Homo sapiens: one gene and its partners. The protein of the gene in region 3 purifies or fractionates together with the protein of the main gene of each other region. This does not show direct contact. Each region holds a gene or a part of one and is shown on either strand. Other genes may lie near its edges.

What was found.
Region 1: the proteins of GJA1 (region 3) and DEFB124 purify together in Homo sapiens (affinity purification with mass spectrometry, with the first as the bait; one study listed by BioGRID). This does not show direct contact.
Region 2: the proteins of GJA1 (region 3) and DEFB125 purify together in Homo sapiens (affinity purification with mass spectrometry, with the first as the bait; one study listed by BioGRID). This does not show direct contact.

The regions. Positions count from the first base shown.
Region 1 is NC_000020.11:31,468,502-31,472,228, reverse strand, and holds part of DEFB124 (beta-defensin 124 precursor), read left to right. Parts: intron 1-3,727. UniProt on the Homo sapiens protein: Has antibacterial activity.
Region 2 is NC_000020.11:85,957-89,783, reverse strand, and holds the start of DEFB125 (beta-defensin 125 preproprotein), read right to left. Parts: upstream 2,113-3,827; 5' UTR 2,075-2,112; coding exon 2,017-2,074; intron 1-2,016. UniProt on the Homo sapiens protein: Has antibacterial activity.
Region 3 is NC_000006.12:121,438,646-121,442,145, forward strand, and holds part of GJA1 (gap junction alpha-1 protein), read left to right. Parts: intron 1-3,500. UniProt on the Homo sapiens protein: Gap junction protein that acts as a regulator of bladder capacity. A gap junction consists of a cluster of closely packed pairs of transmembrane channels, the connexons, through which materials of low MW diffuse from one cell to a neighboring cell.

The DNA of each region.
Region 1 (3,727 bases), on a different chromosome or scaffold from region 3:
GGGTTTCGCTGTGTTGGCCGGGCTGGTCTCCAGCTCCTAACCGCGAGTGATCCGCCAGCCTCGGCCTCCCGAGGTGCCGGGATTGCAGACGGAGTCTGGTTCACTCAGTGCTCAATGGTGCCCAGGCTGGAGTGCAGTGGCGTGATCTCAGCTCGCTACAACCTCCATCTCCCAGCCGCCTGCCTTGGCCTCCCAAAGTGCCGAGATTGCAGCCTCTGCCCGGCCGCCACCCCGTCTGGGAAGTGAGGAGCGTCTCTGCCTGGCCGCCCATCGTCTGGGACGTGAGGAGCCCCTCTGCCTGGCTGCCCAGTCTGGAAAGTGAGGAGCGTCTCTGCCCCGCCGCCATCCCGTCTAGGAAGTGAGGAGCGCCTCTTCCCGGCAGCCATCCCATCTGGGAAGTGAGGAGCGTCTCTGCCCGGCCGCCCATCGTCTGAGATGTGGGGAGCGCCTCTGCCCCGCCGCCCCGTCTGGGATGTGAGGAGCGCCTCTGCCAGGCTGCGACCCCGTCTGGGAGGTGAGGAGCGTCTCTGCCCAGCCGCCCCGTCTGAGAAGTGAGGAGCCCCTCCGCCCGGCAGCTGCCCCGTCTGAGAAGTGAGGAGCCCCTCTGCCCGGCAGCCACCCCGTCTGGGAAGTGAGGAGCGTCTCCGCCCGGCAGCCGCCCCGTCCGGGAGGGAGGTGGGGGGATCAGCCTCCTGCCCGGCCAGCCGCCCCGTCCGGGAGGGAGGTGGGGGGGTCAGCCCCCCGTCCGGGAGGGAGGTGGGGGGGGTCAGTCCCCCGCCCGGCCAGCCGCCCCGTCCGGGAGGGAGGTGGGGGGGTCAGCCCCCCGCCCGGCCAGCCGCCCCGTCCGGGAGGGAGGTGGGGGGGTCAGCCCCCGCCCGGCCAGCCGCCCCGTCCGGGAGGGAGGTGGGGGGGGTCAGCCCCCCGCCCGGCCAGCCGCCCCGTCCGGGAGGTGAGGGGCGCCTCTGCCCAGCCGCCCCTACTGGGAAGCGAGGAGCCCCTCTGCCTGGCTAGCCACCCCGTCCGGGAGGGAGGTGGGGGAGTCAGCCCCCCGCCCAGCCAGCCGCCTCGTCCGGGAGGGAGGTGGGGGGGTCAACCCCCCGCCCGGCCAGCCGCCCTGTCCAGGAGGGAGGTGGGGGGGTCAGCCCCACGTCCGGGAGGGAGGTGGGGGGGGTCAGCCCCCCGCCCGGCCAGCCGCCCCGTCCGGGAGGGAGGTGAGGTCAGCCCCCTGCCCGGCCAGCCGCCCCGTCCGGGAAGTGAGGGGCGCTTCTGCCCAGCCGCCCCTACTGGGAAGTGAGGAGCCCCTCTGCCGGGCCAGCCACCCCGTCCGGGAGGGAGGTGGGGGGCTCAGCCCCCCGCCCGGCCAGCCGCCCCGTCCGGGAGGGAGGTGGGGGGATCAGCACCCCGCCCGGCCAGCCGCCCCGTCCGGGAGGTGAGGGGCGCCTCTGCCCAGCCGCCCCTACTGGGAAGTGAGGAGCCCCTCTGCCTGGCCAGCCACCCCGTCCGGGAGGGAGGTGGGGGAGTCAGCCCCCCGCCCAGCCAGCCGCCCTGTCCGGGAGGGAGGTGGGGGGTTCAGCCCCCCGCCCGGCCAGCCGCCCTGTCCGGGAGGGAGGTGGGGGGGGGGGTCAGCCCCCCGCCCGGCCAGCCGCCCCGTCCGGGATGGAGGTGGGGTCAGCCCCCCGCCCGGCCAGCCGCCCCGTCCGGGAAGTGAGGGGCGCCTCTGCCCAGCCGCCCCTACTGGGAAGTGAGGAGCCCCTCTGCCAGGCCAGCCACCCCGTCCGGGAGGGAGGTGGGGGGCTCAGCCCCCCGCCCGGCCAGCCGCCCCGTCCGGGAGGGAGGTGGGGGGGTCAGCCCCCCGCCCGGCCAGCCACCCCGTCCGGGGGGTGAGGGGCGCCTCTGCCCGGCCGCCCCTACTGGGAAGTGAGGAACCCCTCTGCCCGGCCAGCCGCCCCGTCCGGGAGGGAGGTGGGGGGGTCAGCCCCCCGCCCGGCCAGCCGCCTTGTCCAGGAGGGAGGTGGGGGGGTCAGCCCCCCGCCCGGCCAGCCGCCCCGTCCGGGAGGTGAGGGGCACCTCTGCCCGGCCGCCCCTACTAGGAAGTGAGGCGCCCCGCTGCCCGGCCAGCCGCTCCGTCCGGGAGGGAGGTGGGGGGGTCAGCCCCCTGCCCGTCCAGCCGCCCCGTCCGGGAGGTGAGGGGCGCCTCTGCCCGGCCGCCCCTACTGGGAAGTGAGGAGCCCCTCTGCCCGGCCACCACCCCGTCTGGGAGGTGTACCCAACAGCTCATTGAGAACGGGCCGGGATGACAATGGCGGTTTTGTGGAATAGAAAGGGAGGAAAGGTGGGGAAAAGATTGAGAAATCGGATGGTTGCCGTGTCTGTGTAGAAAGAAATAGACATGGGAGACTTTTCATTTTGTTCTGTACTAAGATAAATTCTTCTGCCTTGGGATCCTGTCGATCGGTGACCTTACCCCCAACCCTGTGCTCTCTGAAACATGTGCTGTGTCCACTCAGGGTTAAATGGATTAAGGGCGGTGCAAGATGTGCTTTGTTAAACAGATGCTTGAAGGCAGCATGCTCGTTAAGAATCATCACCACTCCCTAATCTCAAGTACCCAGGGACACAAACACTGCTGAAGGCCGCAGGGTCCTCTGCCTAGGAAAACCAGAGACCTTTGTTCACTTGTTTATCTGCCGACCTTCCCTCCACTATTGTCCTATGACCCTGCCAAATCCCCCTCTGCGAGAAACACCCAAGAATGATCAATAAAAAAAATAAAAATTAAAAAAAAAAAAGATTTGTTTCTTTTTCTACTTTTTGAGATGGAGTTTCATTCTTGTTGCTCGTGCAATGGCATGATCTCAGCTCACTGCAACCTCTGCCTCCCGGGTTCAAGCGATTCTCCTGCCTCAGCCTCCCGAGTAGCTGGGATTACAGGCATGTGCCACCATGCCTGGCTAATTTTTGTATTTTTAGTGGAGACGGGGTTTCACCATGTTGGTCAGGCTGGTCTAGATCTCCTGACCTCAGGTGATTGACCCACCCCGGCCTCCCAAATTGCTAGGATTACAGACATGAGCCACCATGCCCGGCCCAGAGTTTTTTCTTTTTAAAAACTTTTTATTTTGGAAAATTTCACATATACATGAAAGTAGAGAGAATAACATAAATAAATAAGGTGAGTTTTAAACATTTTTATTATGGGAAAATTTAAACTTATGCAGAAATACAGAATACTGTAACAGCATGAGTTTTTAAAGGATACTTCTTTGATTTTTAAATTTTTGTAGAGATGGGGCCTCCCTATGTTGCTCAGGCTAGTCTCAAACTCTTGGCCTCAAGCAATCCTCCAGCTTTGGCCTCCCAAAATGCTGGGATTACAGGCATGAGCCCAGCCAGAAACTTTGGTATTTAGGAAAATTTCAACCAGAAATAAGAAATAAATAGTATAAAGAACCCTGGCCGGGCGCGGTGGCTCACGCCTGTAATCCCAGCACTTTGGGAGGCCGAGGCGGGTGGATCATGAGGTCAAGAGATGGAGACCATCCTGGCCAACATGGTGAAACCCCATCTCTACTAAAAATACAAAAAATTAGTTGGGCGTGGTGGTGGGCGCCTGTAATCCCAGCTACTCGGGAGGCTGAGGCAGGAGAATCAGTTGAACCCGGGAGGCGGAGGTTGCAGTGAGCCGTGATTGCGCCACTGCTCTCCAGCCTGGCAACAGAGTGAGACT
Region 2 (3,827 bases), on a different chromosome or scaffold from region 3:
TTCCCCATTACTCACAGACATAAATAAAAATTAAATATTTATATATAATATTTCATTTTTAGGACTTGGCAAGTATTCAAAAATTGATAACACATGAAGCAGACAGAAAAAAGTACATCTCCAGGAATTTTATGCTGAATGATTTATGTATAAGAAAGGTTATACTAGCCATCCTTGTCTATAAAATGTAAATGCACTTATTTATGCAAAAACAATTTGGCTAAGTAATTTAAACAGTATCCATTCTATAAAATTTATACAGTCATTGGAAATACAGTTTTTGAAAATAGTAAATGGGAAAATACTAATAGTATAATAGAAAATTTATAAGTATGCTATACATTTTTATTCAAATAAGAAAACTGAGGAAGAACAATAGATCAAAAATATTTTGTCTCTTTTAACTTCTTTACAATTTTTTTACTTCTTTACAATTTCAAAATTTCCAAATTTTCAACAAATACAGCAGTTTATAATCAGAAATGAATGTAGATATTAATTCTGTAACTCACATTACATCAACATGTGAATCAAGACATAACAGATCATAGGCACAGTTATAACCATTTAATAGACATGAATAGCATCTTTCTAGGCAACATATAACACCTCCAAATTTAACAAAAGCCAAATTTCTTAGTATATAAAGATAATTAAGAAAGTTTAGAAATCTAATGGACTGGATGTTCAAACTCATTTATAACTAAAGTGTCATGAATTCAAACATCAGGACATCATTTTCACATATTAGACTGTAAAACTGAATGTAGTAGAAAACTGAATGTAGTAGAAAAAACAAAAAGGACTGATGAGGGTGTGGGAAGCTGACACTCTTGCAACTGGTGATAGGAGAGAAGAATAGTTCAGCTTTTCTGGTAGGTGGTTTGACTGTGTGTGTGTGTGTGTGTGTGTGTGTGTCCACGTGTCCAGTCATAAATGAAAAGACATACATTTGTTTACAAATTTTTCTTGCTGAATTGTTTTTGATAATTAAAGACCTATTTTTCATCAGTAGCGGAGTAATTAATGTGAGGCAATTCATCTGCTCCTCCTCAAAGTTTTACTTATCGATTAAAAATAATGAACTAGGTTTATGTATGGATAAGATGTCTCTAATATATTGCTAGTACATTGCAGAACAATTCACATGGTGCATTTGCAATTGCATTTTTTAAAAATCTAAAAGGTATACACATGCAAATATAAATATATTTGTATTTGCTAGGATATATAAGAAATTGGTAACATTGATTGATTCTGAAGGGGAAGACTGAAGAACTGGTATTCTTGGACAGACAAACATTTTTCTTTTCCTTAAACCCTATAAATCCATCGATTGCTTGATACATAAGTCAATTGCAAGTATTATTTTTTAATAAAAAGTTAACAATTTTCAAAAGTAGCATTATTAAATAGTGGAAACAGACTGTTCCTATTCATCTAAAATTAGAAGCTCCCCATTGGTCACTAGTCTGTCTATCCTGTCTTCACTCCACTTATTTCCACTTCTACCCCAAACATATATATTGTCTCTTCCATATGATAGTGCTACAGAATCTACAAACTGTCAATGGACTTGTTCACCATATCTAAGAACATGAAAGTGAGGGCCTCCCTCTGAAGGTACCCTCCGGGCAAAGAAGAATTCAAGATGGTAGGAGAACTAATAGGACACAACAATGAAATAGATACAACAGAATAATCGAAATGGAAGTGAAGTGAGGCTGAACTAACATTGGATAGTTATGTAGAGAGACAGATAGGGTGGCTCAGAGCATTAAGGAAATTCTTGTCTTTGGAGAAATGCCTCAGAGGACATCCCAGCTTGCTAGATGCCCCTAACAGAAAGATTCTCAGAGACTAGGGGCATGGAGCTGCCAAAATAAGAGCATTCTGCTGCTCTTTGTTGGCCCAGATTTTTCCTGCAGATTCCCTCTCTTCCCATCATGATACCAGGGGAGCCCAAGGGCAACAACTCATCCTAGTCATCATCTCTGCTTTATAGGGTTCCATTACCTTTGGTCACCCGAGTTAGCAACCCACAGATAATGAAGGTCAGCATCAGGATATTCATGGCTCCTGGGAGAGAGGAAGCTCTGTGTCCTGAGGAATACAGAACACTGCACAGCAAGGAATTTAAGTGGTCACCTTTACTGGTCTATCATGGGTGATGAACCAGAGAAGGGGAAAATGCCATGCCACCCAGATCACCAGACCATTAATTTGCAACACTGAGTGTGCATGACACAATAACGTCTGCTTCTAGAAATTATTAAAGAAAGCTGAGGCCTTATGAGATAAGCTATTATCCCGTAGAACTGTAAGGTCTGATGGAAAGAAACAGCCCCAAGAGGAAGTTTTTGTTAACTTTAGATGGGCTCAATTGTCCTTCTCCTCTGTCTGTATGCAGCACTTTGTACATACCCAATGACAGCAGAATGGTGTGTAAAGATATCACTTGTGGCAGTTCAATAGCTTACAACATCCGGTATTCACCTTTTCTTCTGAGTGATCACCCCGATATGAATTCCTGTGAAACAAGAAAGACACTTTTTAACTAATAAGTTCATAAGATTCCATCAATTATGAGACAGAAGGAATTTGGAATGAAAATAGTGAAAACAGGAAAACAGGTTTTATTGGTGCTCTTCTTTTTCCCGTTCCGCTGTCCCATCAACTCTTTTCCCTCATTCAGAAATACAAATAAGAAATGAAATATTGAGAGAGAGGAAACATTTTAAAAGGAGAGGGAGAGAGAAAGAGAGAGAGGAGAGAGGCCCAATGTAACATTATGCCCCCCATCCCCACTACCAAAGGAGAAAAATATAGGAGACATTTGTGAAATTGCCCAGTAGGAGTGATCAGCATTTTATCTCCTGGAAGAGTTTGCTGAGCTGTATTTCTCCCACATATGTTTAATACCAAGGAAATCAGGAAAATTTTAAAAAAATTTTCTAAACAGCTGCACTGTTTAGAAAAAAAACTGCAGCTCACTGCCCATGTTCATTTAATTTTACATTAACATGCTCTGGAGGCTGACTGATGTTCAGTGTGAAAATAAAATATACAAACTGTTCTTGGAATTATTTTTAAACAGAACTAACATCAGAATCATCTGAATAATCAGAATCATCTATTTTGGAAAAAACCGGATTCATTAAATGACTCTTTGGCCCAAAACTGTTTGAGAACAATGTTAACATGGGAATGCTATGCTTTCTAGAATTTGACATTTTCAGCGATCAAGAATTTCTATATTTTGTAAATGGAAATACCACTGCTAACAACAAGATGCTATAAATAGAATGATGATTTGTGTTTTCAAAGTCGATATATTAGAACGATGTGAAAATAATAATAAAGGCGAGATATTTTGTGGCAAAGTTATCTCAGGGTAAACCCTGCAGCTGCAAGTGCCACCAGCGAGTATTCTGGGTGAAAATGGGAAAAGGGTTAAAAATGCAGGATGGCCAAAGCCATCCTAAGCAAAAAGAACAAAACTAGAGGAATCACATTACCTCACTTCAAATTATACTACAAAGCTATAGTAACCAAAACAGCATGGTACTAGTATAAAAACAGACACATAGAGCAATGGAAAAGAATAGAGAACACAGAAACAAGTCCACACATCTACAGTAAACTCATTTTTGACAAAGTTGCCAAGAACATACTTTGGGGGAAAAACAGTCTCTTTAAAAAATGGTGCTGGGAAAACTGGATATCCATATGCAGAATAATGAAACTAGACCCCTGTCTTTCACCATATACAAAACATTAAGTCAAATGGATTAAAGACTTAAAGCTAAGATCTCAAACTATGAAAC
Region 3 (3,500 bases):
TTATTTGAAGAGATGTGTGGGAGCTTATCCGCACACACCAGTTCAACTCTGGAGAGAAAAAGTAATTATCTAGTGTTTATTATTAATGTAATATTCTGTATGGATAATTCAAGTTTTAAAAAATCTCCAGAGCATCTCTTCCATGGGAGATTAATGTATATATTTTTTAAATTCTTAGCATAATTGTCTAAACCTCCATCTAAAGTCACCTTTTAACTATGTATGTACAGATTGTCTTTTACCTATTTTCAAACTGTGGTTAGCTCTTTTTTTTTAATACATCAGTGGCTTATACAATTTCATAAATTTCACATTCCAATTTCCCTATGCTTTTAAAATAATATTTTAAGAAAAATATATGTTTATCGTCAGCTGGGCATGATGGCTCATGCCTGTAATCCTAGCCCTTTGAGAGGCTGAGGTGGGAGGATCGCTTGGGGCCAGGAGTTTAAAACCAGCCTGAGCAACATAGCAAGACCCCACCTCTATAAAAAAAAATTTTAAAAAGAAAATGTATGTTTGTCAATCATTTCTTAGTTGCTGTTTTGCTAAAGAAAAGATGAAAAATTTAAAACCAAATGAGCTATATCTAAAGGTCGTCTAAAGAGTAAGAACCAAACTTTACTGAGCTGTTACTAAGAGCATCACATGCATGAGTTATTTATTAAATTCTCATTGAAAAAAATAGACTATCTTAATCAATACACTTGTGAGGGCCCTAAGGGTGTCTTTATATGATTATAAAATAACAAGGCTATTCACTAAAAATAGTCAATTTGGAGGTGGAAGTAAGAGTAGGGGCAGAGGAAACGCCAAGGACTGATAGAAATATATTAAGTTACATCACAATTGAAGAACATGGCTTTTAGCCTCAGCTTCTGACTTGGGATTTTCTCTCTGGTAGCCCTAAATTGATCTTGAGAAACTTGTTTTGGGGGAGAATTGAGTAGTAGCTGTTGAACTAGGGAGAGGATTGTCTTTTATGGGATGCACCATCCTCTCTTTGGATGGAGTTCCTCACACCTCAATTCCCATCTCATCTCATTAAGTGGATGCTAATGTAAGTTCAGTGATGAGGAGGGGTAAGAGCTGGGGAAGGAAGGCTTGTTGGTGTTTTTATGTTGTCCTCCCCTCTGCCCCCAAAATAAGCAGTTCACAACATCAAATACCTACACAAATGTGCAATTATTTATAAATATATTTTTACATACAGTAAGTTTGATACACTATAGTTAGGCCATCTAGGTATAAATAAGGAAGTAAAGGTTGGGTATTATCTGATGAACTGGGAATCTTTTCCATGGTACTTGAATCTAATCACTTTAGTGCCTGCATAGACTCAGACTGTAAAGATGTTACATTAACCAGGGTTAATATCAACTGCTGCTCTTCCCCTTCAGAGCCCTAGCCTTCCCCGATATTTATCATTCTTGAAATAAACACGATTTTAAACAGGCTATTTCTTCTTGTAATAGTGTCCTTGTCTACAATAAAATTGTGTGGTGCAATCGGAGTTAGAACATCGTAGAACTAGGGGACAACCACACAGTTGTGTTTTTTCCTTTTTTTTTTTGTTTTGTGTTTTAAATCTTAACCTGCAACAACCTAACAGTGAACTGAATGTACAAGCATGATACCTGATGCAGTTCTACAAGAATCCTAACCCTCATTAGGATCTCATTTAACAAATTCAGGAAGCTCTTTGTTAAAAAGCCTTTTTTCTTTTTTCTTTTAAGCCTGTCAAATTTAGCAGTGGGGGTTGCAAAGAGCCTTTTTTCTTAATTTAGCTCTTTTGCCTGCTCAGGAATCATTTGAAGCATGTTGTTTCAACAAACAGTTCTCTGTTTCAGCAATTGTCACTTGAAAATTTAACAGTATGAGAATGAGATGATGACAATAGTTTTTTACTGTGAAGTTTCCTTTTTAATTAATTTGAAACTTTAGAAATTTGAGATATAACTACAATTAAGAGAATCCCAAAGAGACAGAAAAAAACAAACTTTTTTTTTTTTTTTGCACAGTATCTTTCTATTTTTTGTGGAAGCCCCATTTAATTCATTTAACATGTAGCTATACCCCAATTAATTAATTCTTTTCTTTTCTTTTCTTTTTTTGAGACGGAGTTTCACTCTATCACCCGGGTTGGAGTGCAGTGGTGTGATCTCTGCTCACTGCAGCCTCCGCCTCCCGGGTTCAAGCAATTCTCCTGCCTCAGCCTCCAGAGTAGCTGGGATTACAGGCACCCGCCACCACGCCTGGCTACTTTTTTGTTGTTGTTGTTGTTGTTGTTGTTGTTGTTTGTCGTTTTTTTCTTTGAGACGGAGTCTCGCTCTGTCGCCCAGGCTGGAGTGCAGTGGCGCGATCCCGGCTCACTGCAAGCTCCGCCTCCCGGGTTCACGCCATTCTCCTGCCTCAGCCTCCCGAGTAGCTGGGACTACAGGTGCCCGCCACCACGCCCGGCTAATTTTTTTGTATTTTTTTTATTTTTAGTAGAGACGGGGTTTCACTGTGTTAGCCAGGATGGTCTCTATCTCCTAACCTCGTGATCCGCCCGCCTCGGCCTCCCAAAGTGCTGGGACTACAGGCTTAAGCCACCGCACCCGGTCTACTTTTTTGTGTTTTTAGTAGAGATGGGATTTCACTATGTTGGCCAGGCTGATCTCAAACTCTTGACCTCAGATGATCCTCCCACCTCGGCCTCCCAAAGTGCTGGAATTACAGGTGTGAGCCACATCTCTTACTCTTTCAAGCACTGGGGATACAGCAGTGAACAAAGCAAACTCCCTCGTATTGTTCACATTCCAGTTAAGGAAGACAAATAATAAATCCTTCTCATGGAAGGAGGTACATAGTAATCAGGCAAATATTTACTATATCAAGTAGAGAGAAAGTCTATTAAAATAATAATTTTTTAAAAACCAGGGCAAAGGGAATAGGAAATGACAGGACTGGGGAAAGGATGTTGCTATTTCATATTTGGTGGTCAGGAAAGTTGGCTGATGAGGTGAGACCTGCAACAAGTGAGGACGTGAGCTGCGTGGATGGAGCAGAGCTCATCAAACCAAGCTGATTGTTGGTTTGTTTTCTCAAGATTGACTGATTACTCGGAGTATAGGTTGGCAAGTAGGGTGACCAGGCTAATGACATGAAACCTAGCAAACTGATGATGGCTGAGATCAAGCTAAGGGTGGCTGTTTTAAGTGCGGAGGAATAGACAACTGAGTTCACTCAATGACATTTACTGGAGGGGCAGAGGTTATTATAAAAGTGAAAGAAAACATTACAAGGGTTTGCATTTGAGTTTTTGGGCATGAATATTTTTGGGTGTTAGTACATTAGACACACACATGATTTCCCTTTCCTCCCAAAAAATCCATTAAATGATTTTATCGGGAACTTCCATAGACATTTCCTTATGTAGGTTTAGACTCTGATTTTATTCTTTCAGATATTAAAGTCCTTCACCTTCTCTTTTCTTTCAATCATAAAAAGATGCTGGA